Regions from separate parts of the Homo sapiens genome. Here region 1 is linked to region 2. The links come from fine-mapping of genetic effects on gene expression. A gene starts in region 2. The other region holds a variant in brackets. All regions are shown on one strand. Distances are between the middles of the regions.

Region 1 (10,435 bases), 210 kb before region 2:
ACTCCAAATCTTTCTAGACTGAGGGGGGCCCTCTTTGTCTCTATTGGAACACATTTTATAATAGTGCTGGCAATAATGGCACTGTTCTGATTACTTTGCACATACATATATATAAACAAGCATATATATATAAGCTTGTTTAAGCCTCATAACAACCTTGATAGGTACTATCATTATCATCTCCATCTTCTAGTTGGGAAAAATGATACACGGAGAGATGAAGTAACCAATTGACCTAAGCTGACGTGCCTAGTAAGTGGCGGAGTGGGATTTACTCACAGCCAGTTTGGCTGAAGATGCTGTGAAATGAATAAATGAATGGACTCATTAACATTTAATGGAATGCCAGGAGCAGTGGCTCACACCTGTAATCCCAGCACTTTGGGAGGCCAAGGCGGGTGGATCACCTGAGGCCAGGAGTTCAAGAGCAGCCTGGCCAACATGGTGAAAACCTGTCTCTACTGAAAATACAAAAATTACGCAGGCGTGGTGGCATGCACCTATAGACTTGGGAGGCTAAAGCAGGAGAATCGCTTGAACCCAGGAGGTGGAGGTTGCAGTGAGCCGACATCGTGCGACTACACTCCAGCCTTTTCTTTCCAAATTAAAAAAATTAATAAATAAATTTAATGGAATGAAGAAGTAGGGCTCACCTTCATTTATGTAAGACATCTGCCACGCTAAACCTATTTTATTTTTATAGAACACAGAATTTTTTTTTTTTTTTTGAGACAGAGTTTCACTCTTGTTGCCTAGGCTGGAGTGCAATGGCACGATAGCTCACTGCAACCTCCATCTCCCAGGTTCAAGCGATTCTCATGCCTCAGCCTCCCAAGTAGCTGGGATTACAGGCTCCCGCCACCATGCTCAGCTAATTTTTGTATTTTTAGTAGAGATGGGGTTTTGTCATGTTGGCCAGGCTGGTCTCAAACTCCTGACCTCAGGTGATCTGCCCACCTTGGCCTCCCAAAGTGCTGTGATTACAGGCGTGAGCCACCACACCCAGCAGAACACAGAGTATTTTGAAGAAAATACATTTTGAGAGTAAAATCCTATACATCTTGTTTTTCTTTTCTTTTTTTTTTTTTTTGAGGCAGTGTTTCGCTCTTGTCACCCAGGCTGAAGTGCAATGTCTCCATCTCGGCTCACTGCAACCACTGCCTCCTGGGTTCAAGCAATTCTCCTGCCTCAGCCTCCTGAGTAGCTGGGATTACAGGCACATGCCACCACGCCCGGCTAATTTTTGTATTTTTAGTAGAGACGGGGTTTCACCATGTTGGCCAGGCTGGTCTTGAACTCCTGACCTCAGGTGATCCACCCACCTCAGCCTCCCAAAGTGCTGGGATTACAGGTGTGAGCCACTGTGCCTGGCCGCCTAAGATTTTTCAAGTCAGTAAAGAGAGATGTCCTCATAACCCCTTAAGGACCTGCTTAACCATGGGTGGGTGTCAGCTCCTTACTAAGCAAGCCCTGTGGTTTTATGCCCCCAGGGAGACAGACCCCCTGAGAAGTGACCCCAGGCCTCAGTTGAAAGAGCCTCACATCTCAGTGGATGGGCTGGGGACAGAATTGTTCCAATCAGGGATGTCTGTGAGGGATTTCTGGAAGAGGTGAGATTTGGGCTGAGTCTTGACAGATTTTGACAATCAGAGGGAAGGGAGAAGGGCAGGAAGTCAAGAAAATATTTGGACCCCAAGGCTTAGTAGTTGGACAGGTGGGGCAAGAAGGCAGGGGAGAGAGGATGTGAGGGTGTGAGTCCGGAGAGGCAGGTCACAACCCTTCTGGGTGGCTGCACAGTTTTGGACAAGTGGCTGCTTTTTACATTCTCTGCTACCCTTTATGCAAATTGAGCATTTAAGTCTGGGAAAAAGCTCACAGGAGAATCCCCAGGGCAGGAGCGTTTGCTGCTCCTTGGGCCCCCACCCGCCAGCTAGCAGCTTCAGCCTCCTACACTGACTTCTGAGAGGTGCTGTGACTTAGAGCATATGTCACAGCTGTGCTGCTTGCTAGAAGGGTAGGTCTTTTAAAACCTCTGTGCCTTCATTTCCTTAACTGTCAAAGGGTGGTAGTGTCTACCTCATAAGGTTGTTGTTGGAGATTAAATTAGTGAAGGCACCTTAGACCATCTAGACCACCAGCTTCATTAAGTGCCTAGTAGACATTAGCTAATATTGTCACTGGAGCCAACGGTCTTCATAATGAGGCAAAATTCCATTGGGCTGTCCCTCTTCTAGGCCACAGGATTTGGCCTTGGCTGCTGCCTCATTCTAGTCCTAAGGTTCCCCCAACAAGTGTGGCTCCCATTGACCTGAGCCACATCCTCCTCACTCACCACATGCCCCAAGGAGTCACTCCCCTCTTTTTGCCCCACCCGCTTATGCCCACTCTACTAATACTGGCTTCATGTTATAAGATTTTTTTCTTTCTTTCTTCTTCTTCTTTTTTTTTTTTTTTTTTTTTTTTTTAGAGACCAGATCTTGCATTGTCGCCTGGGCTGGAGTGCAGTAGCGTGATCACGGCTCACTGCAGCCTTAACCTCCAGGGCTCAAGTGATCCTCCCACCTCAGCCTCCCGAGTAGCTGGGACTACAGGCACCCACCACCACACCTGGCTTTGGGATAAAATTAGTTTTGCTTTGTGCCCACAGGACCTGAACAGGAAAGCAAAACTGTGATGAAGGTTTACTAAGTAGTTTTGGGGAGTGCCCAGGCCACACGGCCAGCTTCAGTTCTAGGGTCAGCCCAGTTCCTGCCATCAGAAGTGAGTCTCAGAAGACAAGGCACTGGTGCCTCAGCATCTCCCTGAGGGTAGCCAGCTTACCACCCTGCATGTTGCCAGGCTTGGGAGATACCTGTTGGCGGTTTGCATGACAGGGTGAAAGCAGGATCTAGCTATGCAATGACAGCCCTCGGATCTCTGAGAACTAGGACAGGATGGTAGACAAATCTGGCTCCTTGCTGTGAAGGGGCAGGTAGTGAGAGAACTGGCTTACAAAACAAAGCCTGGGCCCTTTCCTAGTGCCAGGCCCAACTAGCTCTTCCTTAGCAAACCATAAGGGTCTCAATGCTTCTCTTTGAACTTCCAGGCATATCTCCCTGGAAGATACCTACCACCCCTTACCCTCCTTACCCCCTTCTGGGGCTTTCTCCTGACACCTCCCATTCTGCAAAAGCCTTCTCTAAGATTCCCCTGTAAAATGGAAACAAACAAACAACTCTGTGGCAAGGGTTGAGATGATGGAGTTGGCCTTAATAGTTAGAAATTCCAGGTGACAGGCTTAATTCACTTTGGCGCAGGGGATAAAGGGAAAAAAGAGAGCGGGTAACAAACAATTATTCGCAAGCTATTTTCTAGAAAATACAGAGAGGCCAGGTGTGGCTCATGCCTATAATCCCAGCACTTTGGGAGGCTGAGGCGGGAGGATTGCTTGAGCCCAGAAGTTTGAGGCCAGCCTGGGCGACATAGGGACACGCTGTTTCTACTTTTTTTTTTTTTTTTTTAATTAGCCCAGTGCGATTGTACACACCTGTAGTCCCAGCAACTTGGGAGGCTTAAGTAGGAGGATCATGAGCCAGGAGTTCAAGGTTACAGTGAACTATGATTGCACCACTGCACTCTAGCCTGGGCGATAGAGCGAGACTGTCTCAAAAAACAAAAACAAAAAAACAGACAGAAGTAGAAACATAATGTACCAGACTAGTAAGTACACACACACACTGTGTGTTTTAAATCAACTTTACATGCGCATAATTTACTTATGATAAAATGCACCCATTTAAGTGTACAGTTTGATGAGTTTTGACAAATGTTTACCTGTGTAATGTCTATCACAATATAGATTAATTCCTCCACTCTAAAAGCTTCCCTGTTTCTTTTTCTTTTCTTTCTTTCCTTTCCTCTCCTCTCCTCTCCTCTCCTTTTTTTTGAAGTGGAGTCTTGCTCTGTTGCCCAGGCTGGAGCACAGTGGCACGGCCTCAGCTCACTGTAGCCTTCACCTCCCGGGTTCGAGCAATTCTCCTGCCTCAGCCTCCTGAGTAGCTGGGATTACAGGCACCCGCCACCAAGCCCAGCTAATTTTTGTATTTTTAGTAGAGACAGGGTTTCACCATGTTGGCCAGGCTGGTCTTGAACTCCTGACCTCAGGTGATGCACCCACCTTGGCCTCCCAAACTGTTAGGATTACAGCATGACCCACAGCTCCCGGCCTTCTTTTTTTTTTTTTTTTCTTTTGAGACAGGGACTTTGTCGCCCAGGCTGGAGTGCAGTGGCGAGATCATGGCTCACTGCAGCCTCAACTTCCCAGACTCAAGTGATCCTCTCACTTCAGCCTCCCAAGTAGCTGGGACTACAGGTGCGAGCCACCACTCTTGGCTTTTTTTTCTTTTTGTAGAAACAGAGTTTCACCATGTTGCCCAAGCTGGTCTTGACTTCGCGGACTCAAGCCATCTGCCTACCTCAGCCTCCCAAAGTGATGGGATTACGGGCATGAGCCACTGCACTGGCTGTGTTTGTTTCTTTTTGCAATCAATCGCTACCTGGCCCAAGCAAGGGCCCATCCCTACCCGGTCCAGTCTGCTTTCTACCAGTATAGATTAGATTTATATTTTCTAGAATTTTACATAAATGGAGTCACACAGTATATACTCTTTTGTATCTTGGCTTCTTTTGCTCAACTTAATGTTTATAAGATTTGTTCGTGTTTTTGCACATATTAAGTAGTGTGTTCCTTTTTATTGCTGTATTGTATTCCACTAGATGGTTATACCATAGTTTGTTTATTCATTCTCCTGTTGATGGACATTATGGTTGTTTGTCATTTTGGGCTATTATGAAAAAGTTGCTGTGAACACTCTTCTACAGCTCCTTTTGAGGACACATGTTTTTATTTGTCTTGGGAGCAGAATTGCTGAGTCGTATGGCAAATGTGTGTATGCTTAACTTCAAAAGAAAACTGCTAAACTGTGTTCCAAAGTGACTGTATGTTCTCACCAGCAAAGTATGACAGTTCCAACTGTTCCACATTTTGACCAGCTCTTGGTATCATTGGCTTTTTATTTTTCACACCTTTTTTTTTTTGAGACAAGATCTCACTCTGTAGCGCAGGTTGGAGTGTAGTTGTGCAATCA[T/A]GACTCACTATAGCCTCAACCTCCCTGGGCTCAGGTGATCCTCCCACTGAGTAGCTGGAACTGCAGGCACACCACCATGCCCAGTTAATTGTTTTATGTTTTGTAGAGACTGGGTTTCCTATGTTGTCCAGGCTGGTCTCGAACTCCTGGGCTCAAGCAATCCTCCTACCTCAGCCTCCCAAAGAGCTGGGATTACAGGCATGAACCACTGCGCCCAGCCCTATGTTTTGCACTTCTGGTTAGGTGCAGAGGATCTCTCGCTGAAGCACACAGATGCTGCCCTGCTACCTTTTCTGAAGCTACTCTTCCTGCCCCTTGTTCTTCCACAACTGCTCTGAGCATCCTTCTGTTTCTGCATGTGCTAGGATCATTTCCTGGAATTCTCATCTTTTGGGCCTTAGCACAAATGTTGCCTCCTCAGAGGTCTTCCCTCACTACCCTCTCTAATGGAATTCTCAAGACTTTTTATCGCATTACCCTGTTTGTCCCGTGAGAACATCAGCTCCATGAACAAACATCTCTTGTCTGTTTTTTTTTTTACCTAAAAGCAGTGCTTTAAAGATCATAGATGCACAATATATATTGCTGAATGGACTTGCAAGTCTAAAGTGTATGTTCAACATATTGACCTTTGGGGTCCTGGGAATGAAAGCGTTTGCATGACATCAAATCAGAAATATTTAAAGCATAAGTTATTTTTATTGTCTGGGACTGTTCTATTTTGCATGTAAATATCTTAAAATCCTGCAAATATAGAAAACAAGAAAGAAAAGAAAAAACAACCATAGTTTCATCAAACTATGTTGATTTCTAAAAAATCAAATTGTTATGGTTTAGAAATACAAATCATTTTTTAATTAGTTTAAAACTGATTTTTAAAAGTTCACTTTTGAATAAGTTATATTTGCACATGGTGAAAAATTCAAACAGTATATACTTCTGGAAAATGTTGCCCATATGCGAACATAGTTATATCTTTCTGCACTTTTTTCCAAAAATAGTATCATACTGTATGCATTGCTTGCACCTTGCTTTTGCATTTAACAATTTATCTTAGAAATCATTCCACATCATTATATGTGATATGGTTTGGACCCAGTAGGAGGTAATTGAATCATGGGGGCAGGTCTTTCCCATGCTGTTCTCATAATAGTGAATAAGTCTCACGAGATCCAATGGTTCTATAAGGGGGAGTTTTCCCGTGCAAGCACTCTTCGCCTGCCAATATCCACGTAAGATGTGATTTGCTCCTCCTTGCCTTCCATCATGATTGTGAGGCCTCCCCAGCTATGCAGAACTGTAAGTCCAATTAAACTTCTTTCTTTAGTAACTTGCCCAGTCTCAGGTATGTCTTTATCAGCAGCGTGAAAACAGACTAATATAATATCTATCAGTTAAGATTAGGTTTGGCTGCTAGTGAAAGAAAATTAAAAATATCAGTGTCTTGCAAAATTAGACATTGATTTCTCTCTCTAATGAAGTCCAAAGGTAAGTGGCCAGGCAATACCAGGATTCCATAATTATCAGGGACCTAGGATCCTTCTGTCATTTTTATGCCATCTTCAACATGGGGCTTCTACCTCATGTTTCAATATGGCTGTCTGAGCTCCTGCCATTACATCTGCATCTATCCAGCAAAACAAACAAACAAACAAACAAAAACATTAACAAGAACACAGGGGCACACCTACCAGCAAAGGAGGCTGGGAAATTTATTCTTTATTCCAAATAGCCATATACCCAGCTCAAAAATCAGAGGGGAAGAGAAGAATGGATACTGGGGCACAACTAACAATCTCTGTTACAAGTATACATAGATTTGCCTCATTAAAAAAAAAAATGCTATATAGAATTCCATTGTACAAGGCCAGGCGCAATGGCTCATGCTTGTAATCCCAGCACTTTGGGAGGCCAAGGTGGGTAGATCACCTGAGGTCAGGAGTTTGAGACCAGCCTGGCCAACATGGTGAAAGCCCACCTCTACTATATATACAAAAATTACCCAGGCGTGGTGGTGCACACCCATCCCAGCTACTCAGGAGGCTGAGGCAGGAGAATCTCTTGAACCTGAGAGGTGGAGGTTGCAATGAGCTGAGATCACACCACTGCACTCCAGCCTGGGTGACAGAGGGAGACTCTGTCCCAAGAAAAAGAATTCCATTGTACGAATGTACCATTATTTATTTAACCAGTTGGCAGACCTTAAGTTATTTATACTCAGTACAAATGATGCTGTAAGGAACTAGATCTTTATACCTACCTACTTCCTTGGCATATATGGGAATATTTCTGCAGGAAAAATTCCTAGAAGTGGAATTATCAGGTCAAAGACTGTGTTAGTTATTGCCAAATTTCCCTCTGAAGAAGTTTCATCAATCTTTGCTCTTACCAATAATATTTTCCCACACCTTGACCGACCTACTGTATTACAGAACTGTAGCAGTCTTCTAGGGAGAAAATGATGTATCTTTCTGACAGGTATAACATGGTCTTTGTTTACATTTTTCTTATCACAAGTTAGGTCAGAAGTCAGGAGATCATATCCTTTGCCAGAACATGGAGCTGGAGGCCATTATCTTTAGCAAACTAATGCAAGAACAGAAAACCAAATACCGCATGTTCTCACATGTACGTAGGAGCTAAATGATGAGAACACATGGACACAAAGAGGGGAACAACAGATACTGGGGCTTACTTGAGGGTGGAGGGTGGGAGGAGAGAGAAGGGAGAGGATCAGAAAAAATAACTCTTGGGTGCTAACTTAGTACCTGGATGACAAAATAACCTGTACAACAAACTCCCTTAACATGAGTTCACCTATATTACAAACCTGCACATGTACCCCTGAACCTAAAATAAAAGTTAAAAAAACAAGTTAGGTCAAAAGTCTTTTCATGGCCGGGCGCGGTGGCTCACGCCTGTAATCCCAGCACTTTGGGAGGCCGAGGCGGGCGGATTACCTGAGGTCAGGAGTTCGAGACCAGCCCCATCATGGAGAAACCCCGTCTCTACTAAAAATACAAAAAAAAAAAATTAGCCGGCCGTGGTGGTGCATGCCTGTAATCCCAGCTACTCGGGAGGCTGAGGCAGGAGAATTGCTTGAAACTGGGAGGCAGAGGTTGTGGTGAGCCGAGATCACGTCATTGCACTCCAGCCTGGGCAATAAGAGTGAAACTCCATCTCAAAAAAAAAAAAAAAAAAGTCTTCTCATACTTACCAGTGATCTGAATTATGAAAGTAGTTCAAGTATCTGGTAATAAACTTAAAACAATATAAAGAGAAATACAATAAAAACGAGTCCTTTTTCCTCCCTAGATTCCCAGTCCCATCCCCTTAGGCATAACCACCGTTAAGAGTTTCTTGCATATCTTTCCATAAAGTTCCACTGGGACTTTAATTACATTTAACTATACATATAAGATTTTTAAAAAGTAGAAGTGGGAGTATCCATTATACTCTGTTCTATGCTTTGCTTTTTCACCTAATATATTTTATAGATTTTTCTATGTAAGCACATAGATACATACCATATTCTTTTAAATTGTTGCATATGTTGAATGGCAAAGCCATAATTTAATAAAACAATCCCCTGCTACTGATGATCAAATTGTCTTTAGTTTCTTGCTGTTACAAATACCGCAGAGAACATCGTTGTATATATAGTTTGGCCAACATGTAGGAGTACAGCTATAGAATGAATTCCTGGAAGTGGAATATTAGGTCATTGAGTATGTGGGTTTTAAAATTTGATAAACATTGCTAAATTGTCTGACAAAGAGGTTACACAATCTTCACTCCCACAAACGAAAATGGCTTTGCCCTGTTTCCCACATTCTTACCTATACTGTATATTATCAAACTTTTAAATCAAGTAGATACAAATGGCATATCATTATATTAAATTGCATAATTTTCATTATGAGTGAGGTGCAGTATCCTCTTATGTATTTCTTTTTTCTTTTTCTTTTCTTTTCTTTTTTTTTTTTTTTTTTGAGACAGAGTTTCACTCTTGTTGCCCAGGCTGGAGTGCAATGGCACAATCTTGGCTCACTGCAACCTCCGCCTCCTAGGTTCAAGTGATTCTCCTGCCTCAGCCTCCGGATTAGCTGGGATTACAGGCATGCGCCACCATGCACAGCTAATTTTTGTATTGTTAGTAGAGACAGGGTTTTACCATATTAGCCAGGCTGGTCTTGAACTCCTGACCTCAGGTGATCTGCCCGTCTCGGCCTCCCAAAGTGCTGGGATTATAGGCATGAGCCACTGCGCCTGGCCCCTCTTATGTATTTCTAAACTATTTGTTTGTTTGAGACAGAGTCTGGCTCTGTTGCCTAGGCTGGAGTGCAGTGGTGCCATCTCAGCTCACTACAAGCTCCGCCTCCCAGTTCAAGTGATTCTCCTGCCTCAGCCTACCGAGTAGCTGGGATTACAGGTGCAAGCCACCACACCTGGATAATTTTTGTATTTTTAGTAGAGACGGGGTTGTGCCATGTTGGCAAGGCTGGTCTCTAACTCCTGGCCTCAAGTGATCCATGTGCCTGGGCCTCCCAAAGTGTTGGGATTACAGGTGTGAGCCACTGCATCTAGCCAACATTTTCCCTTATATTATCTTTATAGTTTCATCTTTTACCTTCAGATCTTTGATTCATCTGGAGTATTTTTGTTGTAAGAAATGAGGTAAGGACCTAGCTCCCCTCACCCTCCTCACCCCCAGATAGCTAATCAGTTTTTCCACCATTAGTACTGAATACTTAAATGTTTCCTCACTGCTCTGAAATGTCCATAGGTAGTTAGAACTATTTCTATATTTTATATTATTTCATTTGCATGATTTAATTAAAATATATTTGCAGGCCGGGCACAGTGGCTCATGCCTGTAATCCCAGCACTTTGGGAGGCCGAAGTGGGCAGATCATGAGGTCAGGAGTTCGAGACCAGCCTGACCAACATGGTGTAACCCCATCTCTACTAAAAATACAAAAATTAGCCGAGCATGGTGGTGTGTGCCTGTAATCCCAGCTACTCAGGAGGTTGAGGCAGGAGAATTGCTTGAACCTGGGAGGCAGAGGTTGCAGTGAGCCAAGATCACGCCATTGCACTCCAGCCTGGGTGACAGAGTGAGACACTGTCTCCAAAAAAAAAAAAAAAAAAAAAAAAATATATATATATATATATATATATATATATATATATATATATATATTTGTACATATATATATATTTGCATTTCACATGGCAGAATCAAATTGTTTGTTGTTGTTGTTGTTGTTGTTTTTGAGACGGAGTCTTGCTCTGTTGCCCAGGCTGGA
Region 2 (8,295 bases):
GAGAAGGTGAGGGAGTGAGCCTACAGATATCTGGGGGAAGAGCACCTGGGCAGTGGGAAGAGCCAGTGCAAAGGTCCTGTGGCAGGAGGGGCCCTGGTGGACTGGAGGAACCACCAGGTGACCAGTGTGGCTGGGGGGAGAGGAGGTCAGAGAAGTGAGGGGTAGACAGGGTCTTTAAAACTGATTTTTGCTCTGAGAGAAATGGGAAGCTACAGCAGGGTTTTGAGCAAAGGAGTGACATGACTTGTTTTTGTTTTTGTTTTTGTTTTGAGACGGAGTCTCGCTCTGTAACCCAGGCTGGAGTGCAATGGCCTGATCGCAACTCACTGCAACCTCTACTTCCCAGGTTCAAGAGATTCTCCTGCCTCAGCCTCCCGAGTAGCTGGGATTACAGGTGCATACCACCATGCTCAGCTAATTTTTGTATTTTCAGTAGAGACGCGGTTTTGCCATGATGGCCAGGTTGGTCTTGAACTCCTGACCTCAAGTGACCCACCTGCCTCAGCCTCCCAAAGTGCTAGGATTACAGGCCTGAGCCACTGTGCCCAGCCTTTTTTTTTTTTTTTTTTTTCTGAGACCGAGTCTCACTCTGGGTCTCACTCCAGCCCAGGCTAGAGTACAGTGGTATGATCATGACTTACTGCAGCCTCGACCTCCTGGCTTCAAACAGTGCTGCTTCCTGCCTCAGCCTCTCATGTAGCTGAGACCCTAGGCACATGCCACCATACCTGGCTAGTTTTTTGTAGAGCCAGGGTCTCACTTTGTTGCCCAGGCTGGTCTTAAATTCCTGAAGTGATCCTCTCGTCTCGGCTTCTCAAAGTGTTGGGATTATATGCGTGAGCCACTGTGCTTGGCATGACTTGTATTTTAAAAAGCAAAAGTTGTTTTGCGTGTGTGTGTGTGTGAGTTTAAGATGGAGAGATGTTCTGGAGAGACGTGTCAGTCCCGTGCTCTGCTCTTTAGCACTGCAGGTCCAGTGAGTCCAGGATTTAAGAGACTCTGGGTGACTCGCATGCCCCATCCTCACAGGAGACTGATGTCATTTTACTCATTTACAATGAAAGATAATACCCCGTCAGCTGATCACACATCCTTCCCTGCTGGAAAGTCACGGCCCAGGCTGATCTGCAGGGCACCAGTCATGGGAGGCTCAGTCTTGAGGGTTCACTCAGCCTGTGGGCCCCACAGTTGTCCTTCCTATGCCTGGAATAAACACACAAATCCCCCAGAGGCAGCATCTCCTGCCCTTGTTTGGGCCCAGTAAGAAATGCCTGGTGCTGTTTCGGGTCTCTCTTTTGCCAATTACAGTGCAGTGGGAGGAATGGTAAGAGCAAGGTGTCATGGAAACTCAGAGCTGAGACATCTAAATCAGATGGGGGGTCAGGAAGGCTTCTTGGAGGTGATCTTGAGTGGACTCACTCTAATCCATGAACGTGAGCAGGCGACAAGGAAACTCAAGAAAGAAAGATCTTAAGGGCACATTATACAGACCCTGCTCCTTCCTTTCAGAAACTCTCCTCCAAGTACACTTTCTCTTAACTGCAATTTACCTATCCATCTCCCCAGCTCAACTGTGTGCCCTTTGCAGGTCCAAGATTGGCTCATCCTGTCATTAGGTACTGGTGTGTGTCTGTCTCCTAAGACCACCTGGGTACCAATGGCATGGAGCGCCTATGTGCCAGATGCCCCTTGCCATTTTCCAGCCCTCCGCTTTGACATCCCAGAGACAAAGCCCCATTCTCACAGATGTGAACCCTGTCCACAAGGATGCCACAGATGCCAAGCCTATTCTCAGATACCCTAATGGATGAAGATGTCCAGGCCACACCCCTGTGCACACATGCCCAGGCCCCTTCTCCGGTCAGTCCTGAGCCATCTCAGCCATCTCTAACTGTCCTCTCCCTGTCTACTCCCCTGGGGCACCCCAGGCTAGTGACGGCCTGCTGGTGCGCTGGCAGAACAAGACGCTGGAGAGCCTCATAGAACTGCACAACAAGCCACCTGTCTGGAACGATGACAGTGGCTCCTACACCCTCAACTTCCAAGGCCGGGTCACCCAGGCCTCAGTCAAGAACTTCCAGATTGTCCACGCTGATGACCGTGAGTACCTGAGGGCCCAGGTCTGGCTCTTCTCCACCACCCCCAGGATGCTGACCTTCATTCAAGCTCCCCTCACCCCCTCACACACACACACACCAGCCTTTATCCCGAGAGCTGGGACATCCCACAGGGTCACTCTCTCCTCCATAGGCACTGACACTGTGCTCTCAGGAGCCTCAGATATTCTAAGCAGGTGTCTTGGGGCTCATCACTTCAGGTTCCCATTCCAGCATTGGCCAGAGCAGTGGGTTAGATACTGGGACATTCTGGATAAGATTGTGTTGAAGGGAGGGTTGGCTCCTAGAGTCTGAAAACCACGGACAGCCCAACTCCTCTTTGTTCAAAGAGAGTGCTGAGGCTCAGAGAGGGCAGCCCTTTGCCCAGAGTCTCTCAGCAACTTCAGGAAGTTACACTGGCCCTCGAAATTTATTTCACAAAACTTACACAGTGTTTACTATGTGCCAGGCACTGTTCTCAGGATTTTACAGATAACTGAATCATTAAATCCCTTCAACGTCCCTGTGAAGAGTGCCATTATTATCCCTATTTGGCAGGAAACTAAGGCACAGAGAGGTTAAGCAACTTGCCCACGGTCACATCACTAGTAGGAGGTAGAGCTGACAGTCTGGATCTCCAGTGGCCATGCTCTTAATCTCTTCAAGATGGTTGCCTTTTAGGGGCAGGGAATATTAAGCATTTTTGAGTGCCTACTCTGTGTCTTCTCTCAAGTGAGGTCAAAGGACTACCCTGGAAGACTCAGGGAAACAAGGTGTCCCTGTTACAAGCCTTGGTTGGAAAGGCTTCCTTCCCACTAGGGTGAGGAAGTTTGGGGATGGAAGGGTATCTCCCATAAGTCTCTGGGTTCACAGGGTTGGACCAACATTGAGCGAGCCCCAACTGCATCCTAGGGATGTGCCCCCAGTGCCACCTGTCCTGTGGCTGTGGGACTGCTCTCCAGATCACGTTTCTGGTGGAGCCTCGTCCACCTGAGTTTGGGGGTATTTTTAGCAACTTCCTGTCCCTATGGATCCTGGGGGAGGTGCTGAGGTTGGGGCTGGGAACCTGGATCATTGAAGGGAGAGGTGCCCAGTGAGGCTGAGGAAGGGAACCAGGGGCTAGTCAAGGGGTGGAGCTGGGGTCTAAGGTGGGACTTCGTGGCTGGGGATAGGAGGAAAGACTGTGGCCAGAAACAACAGAGAATTTGGGAAGGAAGAATGCTGGGCTTGGATAAATTTGACAGGGTCCTATAGTTAATCAGGTGCGGGCTCTAGGCATGGCCTGTGGCAGCAGCAGAAAGGCAAGGTCCCTGCCCCCAGGAGATTATAGTGTGACTGCAAAGCCACGTGGTGCTGGTGTGGAGTGAGATAGAAGAAGGGATGGGTGTTGAGTAACTGAGATGGTGGCTGAGGGTTGGAGCCCCAAGGCAAGGGACAGACTGCCCCCAAGGTTGAGGGCACTGTCTGCCAGGATGGGGGTCCAAGGAGGTCTCGGGCCGCCCCCACCCCGTCTTGTGTCCATAGCCGACTATATCGTGCTGCAGTTCGGCCGCGTGGCGGAGGACGCCTTCACCCTAGACTACCGGTACCCGCTGTGCGCCCTGCAGGCCTTCGCCATCGCCCTCTCCAGTTTCGACGGGAAGCTGGCCTGCGAGTGACCCCAGCAGCCCCTCAGCGCCCCCAGAGCCCGTCAGCGTGGGGGAAAGGATTCAGTGGAGGCTGGCAGGGTCCCTCCAGCAAAGCTCCCGCGGAAAACTGCTCCTGTGTCGGGGCTGACCTCTCACTGCCTCTCGGTGACCTCCGTCCTCTCCCCAGCCTGGCACAGGCCGAGGCAGGAGGAGCCCGGACGGCGGGTAGGACGGAGATGAAGAACATCTGGAGTTGGAGCCGCACATCTGGTCTCGGAGCTCGCCTGCGCCGCTGTGCCCCCCTCCTCCCCGCGCCCCAGTCACTTCCTGTCCGGGAGCAGTAGTCATTGTTGTTTTAACCTCCCCTCTCCCCGGGACCGCGCTAGGGCTCCGAGGAGCTGGGGCGGGCTAGGAGGAGGGGGTAGGTGATGGGGGACGAGGGCCAGGCACCCACATCCCCAATAAAGCCGCGTCCTTGGCCAAGCGGAGCGGTGGTTCCTCAGCGCGTGCGGAGAACGAGGCGGCAGGAGGCGTCCGAGGCGCGAGCTGGAAGTCTCAACCCCCGTCCCACTCCTGCCCAGGCCCCGGGCGCTCCCGCGTCCCCTCCCCGCGCCCGTCGCGGGTCCTACCGAAACTCGGCGGCCGCACAGCGTCGAGACGCCCCCCGTGGGGGCCCGGGGAGCCGGGGCGAAAGGGAGGGTCCCGGAGGTCGGGGAAGAGGGAGAAAGGGAGAAGAAATTCGAGAAACTAGCCACGCGGGGAGAACCAGACAAACCGGGTCCCGGCAGGGCGGGCGCAGCCGCCAGGGCGGAGCCGGGTCTGGGGCCCCGGGAGTGGGGGGCAGGCCCGCGAGCTGGAGGGTACGCTCCGCCTTGGCGGCTCGGGACTAGGGTGGAGGGGCCGGGAGCCCCGGGGCCCGTGCGCTCCGGCTCTGCCGGGCTCCTCGTGACGCGGCACCCACGGCCCCCGGCACCGACGGGAGCCCTGCCCGCGAGGCGAGGGCTCCGCCCTCGGCCCCGCCCCAGGCCGGAGCCCCAAATTCCGGCGGGTGCCCGGGAGCGGGGCGAGGCCCGGAGCGCAGGGGGAGGAAGGCAGCTCCGCACGGGCGGGCGAGGAGCGGGGCGCCCAGGCGCGCGCCAGCCGGGGTGGCCGGGTCGCGAGGCCGCGGGGTAGGCGGCCCGAGCGCGGCTGGACGGCCCCGCCCCTCCCGGCCAGCACCGCCCCCTGCGCGCCCCGCCCCCTCCTTCCCGCAGCCCCCACCCCCGCCCCGGCTCCTCAACACAAACTTTCCGTCCCGCTCGCTCCCTCCTCCGCGCTCGGCGCCTCCCGCTCCAGCCCGGCTCATTCCGCACATTCCGGCCAGCCCCCTCCCCACGACCCCCCTTCCCCGGCCCCCCTTGCGGCTCCCTCGGGCCCGGCGGAGCGGCCCGGCCGGAGCGCCCCCGCGAGCTCGGACCAGGTAAGCCGGGCGGACGCCGGGAGGAGGCCCCGCTCGGGAGAGGTGGTTTGGTTGGTCGGCTGGGCTGGCTGGGGGGGCGACACTCGAGGGGGACTGGGTCCCCGAGCTATTGTCCAGCCGGAGCTGGAGCCCCGGATCGGGGTGCCGGGAAGTTTAGAGGGAAGGGGGAAAATCTCTCCGGGAAGCCCCGCCCCCCGCCCTCCCCACCCCCCCGCGACGGGGACGAGTTGGTCCGGGAAGGTGGGGAAGCCGGGGAGACCGTGTCCCCTGTGCCGTCGCCTGTCCCGCCGTCCGTGCTTGGGGGGTCGGGGCGGGGATCCGGGGGCCGCACAGTGTGGAGGGCCTGCCTGCCACCCTGGAGCTCATATCCGGGGCGCCCAGTCCCGGGCCCCGCCGCCCTTTGGACTCCCGGCCCGCGCGCTCCCGGAGCCCGCCCGGCCTCAGCTCCACGCAGGCCTCGGGCCCGGCCTCCCAGCGCCCAGGCCGGTTTCTGCGCGCGGTGCCGCGGCTGCGCTGGGTTGTGGAGGGTGTCTGGGACCAAAGCCGCGCGCCCCGGCCGTGTGTCCCCTGAGAGGCAGGGAGGGGCTCACGTTCCCTTCAGTTCTGCCGCCTGCGTCGGGGTGCTGATTCAGAGTTCCAGCCCTGAGCGCTGTGAGCTTGGCTCGGAGGGGTCTGGATTTGGGGCCTTTTCTTCCCCACACTTGCTCAGGGCCCTTGTTTAGACTTGACAAGGTTTGAGGGTGGCTGGTCTCCCGCTTCCTACCCCGGTCCCCACCATTGTCTGTCATGCCCTTTATTCCTGCTAGGGGAGGGAGGGCTGGGAGCGCTGGTCTGGATCTGTTTTCCAGCCCAGCTGGGCCCTGGGGCAGTGTCATTGAGACCCCGCTCTGTCAACTTTCCTGGTGAGGGGCCCTGATCCAGGGCTGAGAGATTCTTTCAGTGCGAGGGGGAAGGAGGCCTTGGGGCGGACTTCTCAGGGGCTGTCTTCTTCTGTGTCTTCCCTCTTTCCAGGTAGGGGCAGAACCAGGTCAGGCCTGGACTTGTTGTCCGGAAGAACAGGGCATAGGGGTAGGGGCTGGACACAGCTCAGAGGGGCTGGTGCCCATAGCGGCTCTGCGTATCCAGTCTCTTGTGGCCTGGTTCTCTGTACACATGTTCCACCCCAGTGCTGGGGCCACCTGGGGCAAGGAGGGGAGGCTTTCCTCAAAAGTTGGAGATTTGGGGGAATTATGTCCTCTCCCTTCTAGACTCCTGTAGCCCCCCTCCCACCAAGACCCCTCTCGTAGGGGCACTCCCTAAAGGATGTGGTTCTGTGGTCTTCTGGGTCCCTGCTCACCCAGTGGGCAGAGTGCACAGATCTTCCAGGACAAGGCTGTCCAGTAAGGGTAACTTCAGGGGCCCTGGATGCCCCCTCCTCAGGGAGAGGGTAGGAGCCAGTATGAGTCCCAAGCTCTTGGGCCTTCCCCTACCCCCCCAGGGAGGGAACGTCATTAATGCTAATGAGCGCATCTGGGCTGGGGAATGGCTTGTTAGAGTGGTCAGTGGTTGCCAGGACAGAGCAGCACATTAAGTGTACAGAAGCATCACATGGGTCCTGAGCCCTGCTCCCATCCTCACCCAAAGGTTTGTAGACCCTGGCACTTTCTGCCAACTGAAGGAATGTTAAAACCGGGAGGATTTGATATTCTCAACAATATCAAAGGAGAAGATATCTCAACAGAGGTGGTCAAGAAATAGGGATCTGGTCCCCTCCGGACCTTTAACCAGTTGCGCCATCTTGGCAGGCCCCTTTGGGCCTCAGTTTCCCTGCTTGGAATGAATGACTTCTCAAGTCCCTTTTCTCTGAGCTCCTCCCAGAGTCTGTCTCCCAGTTTGCCTTCCTTCTCCCATGATGGAACCTGAACTTGGTGGGGTCTGGAGAGGCGGGTGGGTGATCCAGTGGCCCAAAGAAGAAGGCAAGGACAAACCAAGGGGTGACTGAGGAGTAGCTCAGCCAGATGAACAGGGCTGAAAAGGTGGCGGGGGGCAGGTGTCAAGGGACAGGGGGGCTTGGTGGATTGGGGGATCTTGCCTCTGAAGTGGTCATGGGTTCTGTTAGGGCTGAATGGCACAAAGGGTGCTCAGAGGCCGCTTGGGTGGCTCTACCCTCTGCCCCACTCCCAGACACCTGTGGGGGTCCCAGGGCTCAGTGTGGAAATCGCTGGTCCTGCCCTCCTCCTCCTCCCCGCCCAGGATGGGGAGAGGAGCCCAGGGGTCTAAACGCTGCAGCTTTCTGTGAAGGGGCTAGGAGGTCGCAGCCTCTTCTTCCCACATGGGGGCTGCAGAAGCTGTGGGGTCCCAGGGGTGGCCCTGAGGATCTGCCTCTGGGTAGAGCTGGGGAGGTCAGCAGGTCACACTCGGCACTGTCCCTGGGGCCTTGCCCTGCCTTCCCTCCCCTCCCCTCCTGGTGTTGTGCCAGCCCTGGGCTGTCTGCAGAAGGGGCCACTTCCCTCCAGGGAGAACCCTGCCAGGGAAAGGGCTCTGCCTGTCTTCCCCGACCCACAGGAGGTTGAGGTTAGGGCCAGAGAGGTTCATCCCCCTGCACATCCCTAAAGCCTCAGCCCTTGGGGTTTCCTAGAGTGCCGATTGTTTCCTGTGCTCCCTGCCAGGCCTGAAAGGGCAGGAAGTGTTAGAGGGAAATGAGAATGCAACTGTGTGTGACGCTGGATGTGTGTGAGAGAAGCCATGAGTGGGACATTCTATGTGGGTGAGACTTGTCTTCTGTGGGGCTGGATGTGTGTGGAAGAGAACCTTGGTCAGAGCAACTTGTGCAGGGCTGGGTGTATGCAGGAGAGAAACTGTGGCTTTGTGACATTCGTGTGTGTGACAGATATACACGTCCATAAGAGAAACTGGGTGACTCTTCATGTGTCCAGGTGTGCCGCCACCTCTGTACCTGAGAACCTGCATGGGGGATGTTCTGTGTGTGCCAGGGCATCACCCAGGATGTGCCGATGAAGGAAGCTGGCTGCCTAGCCATCTGTGTGTACCTGGAGATGACACTGGGTGTGGCTCTGATGCTCAAGTGACCTGCGTGTGAAGGACACCGCACTCGCACGATGCTGTGTGTATG

What was found.
Region 1: its variant is fine-mapped to the expression of TEAD3 in whole blood (TOPMed, PIP above 0.99).

What each region holds. Positions count from the first base shown.
Region 1 is chr6:35,705,108-35,715,542 of GRCh38, reverse strand. It overlaps a transcript of FKBP5 not described here. Among named protein-coding and RNA genes, the nearest start is that of FKBP5, 21 kb to the right of the region's middle. The variant T/A (reference allele first, on the strand shown) is at 5,127.
Region 2 is chr6:35,493,786-35,502,080 of GRCh38, reverse strand. It overlaps TEAD3 (TEA domain transcription factor 3), which reads left to right and starts at 5,002. Exons shown (of 13, transcript NM_003214.4): 1 at 5,002-5,183. It overlaps TULP1 (TUB like protein 1), which reads left to right. Exons shown (of 15, transcript NM_003322.6): 14 at 1,929-2,100; 15 at 3,621-4,207. The coding sequence ends at 3,754. It overlaps LOC124901309 (a long non-coding RNA gene), which reads right to left and starts at 3,948. Exons shown (of 2, transcript XR_007059561.1): 1 at 3,874-3,948. RefSeq lists enhancers at 3,166-4,095, 4,096-5,026, 5,973-6,758 and silencers at 4,495-4,824, 4,835-4,964, 5,145-5,194.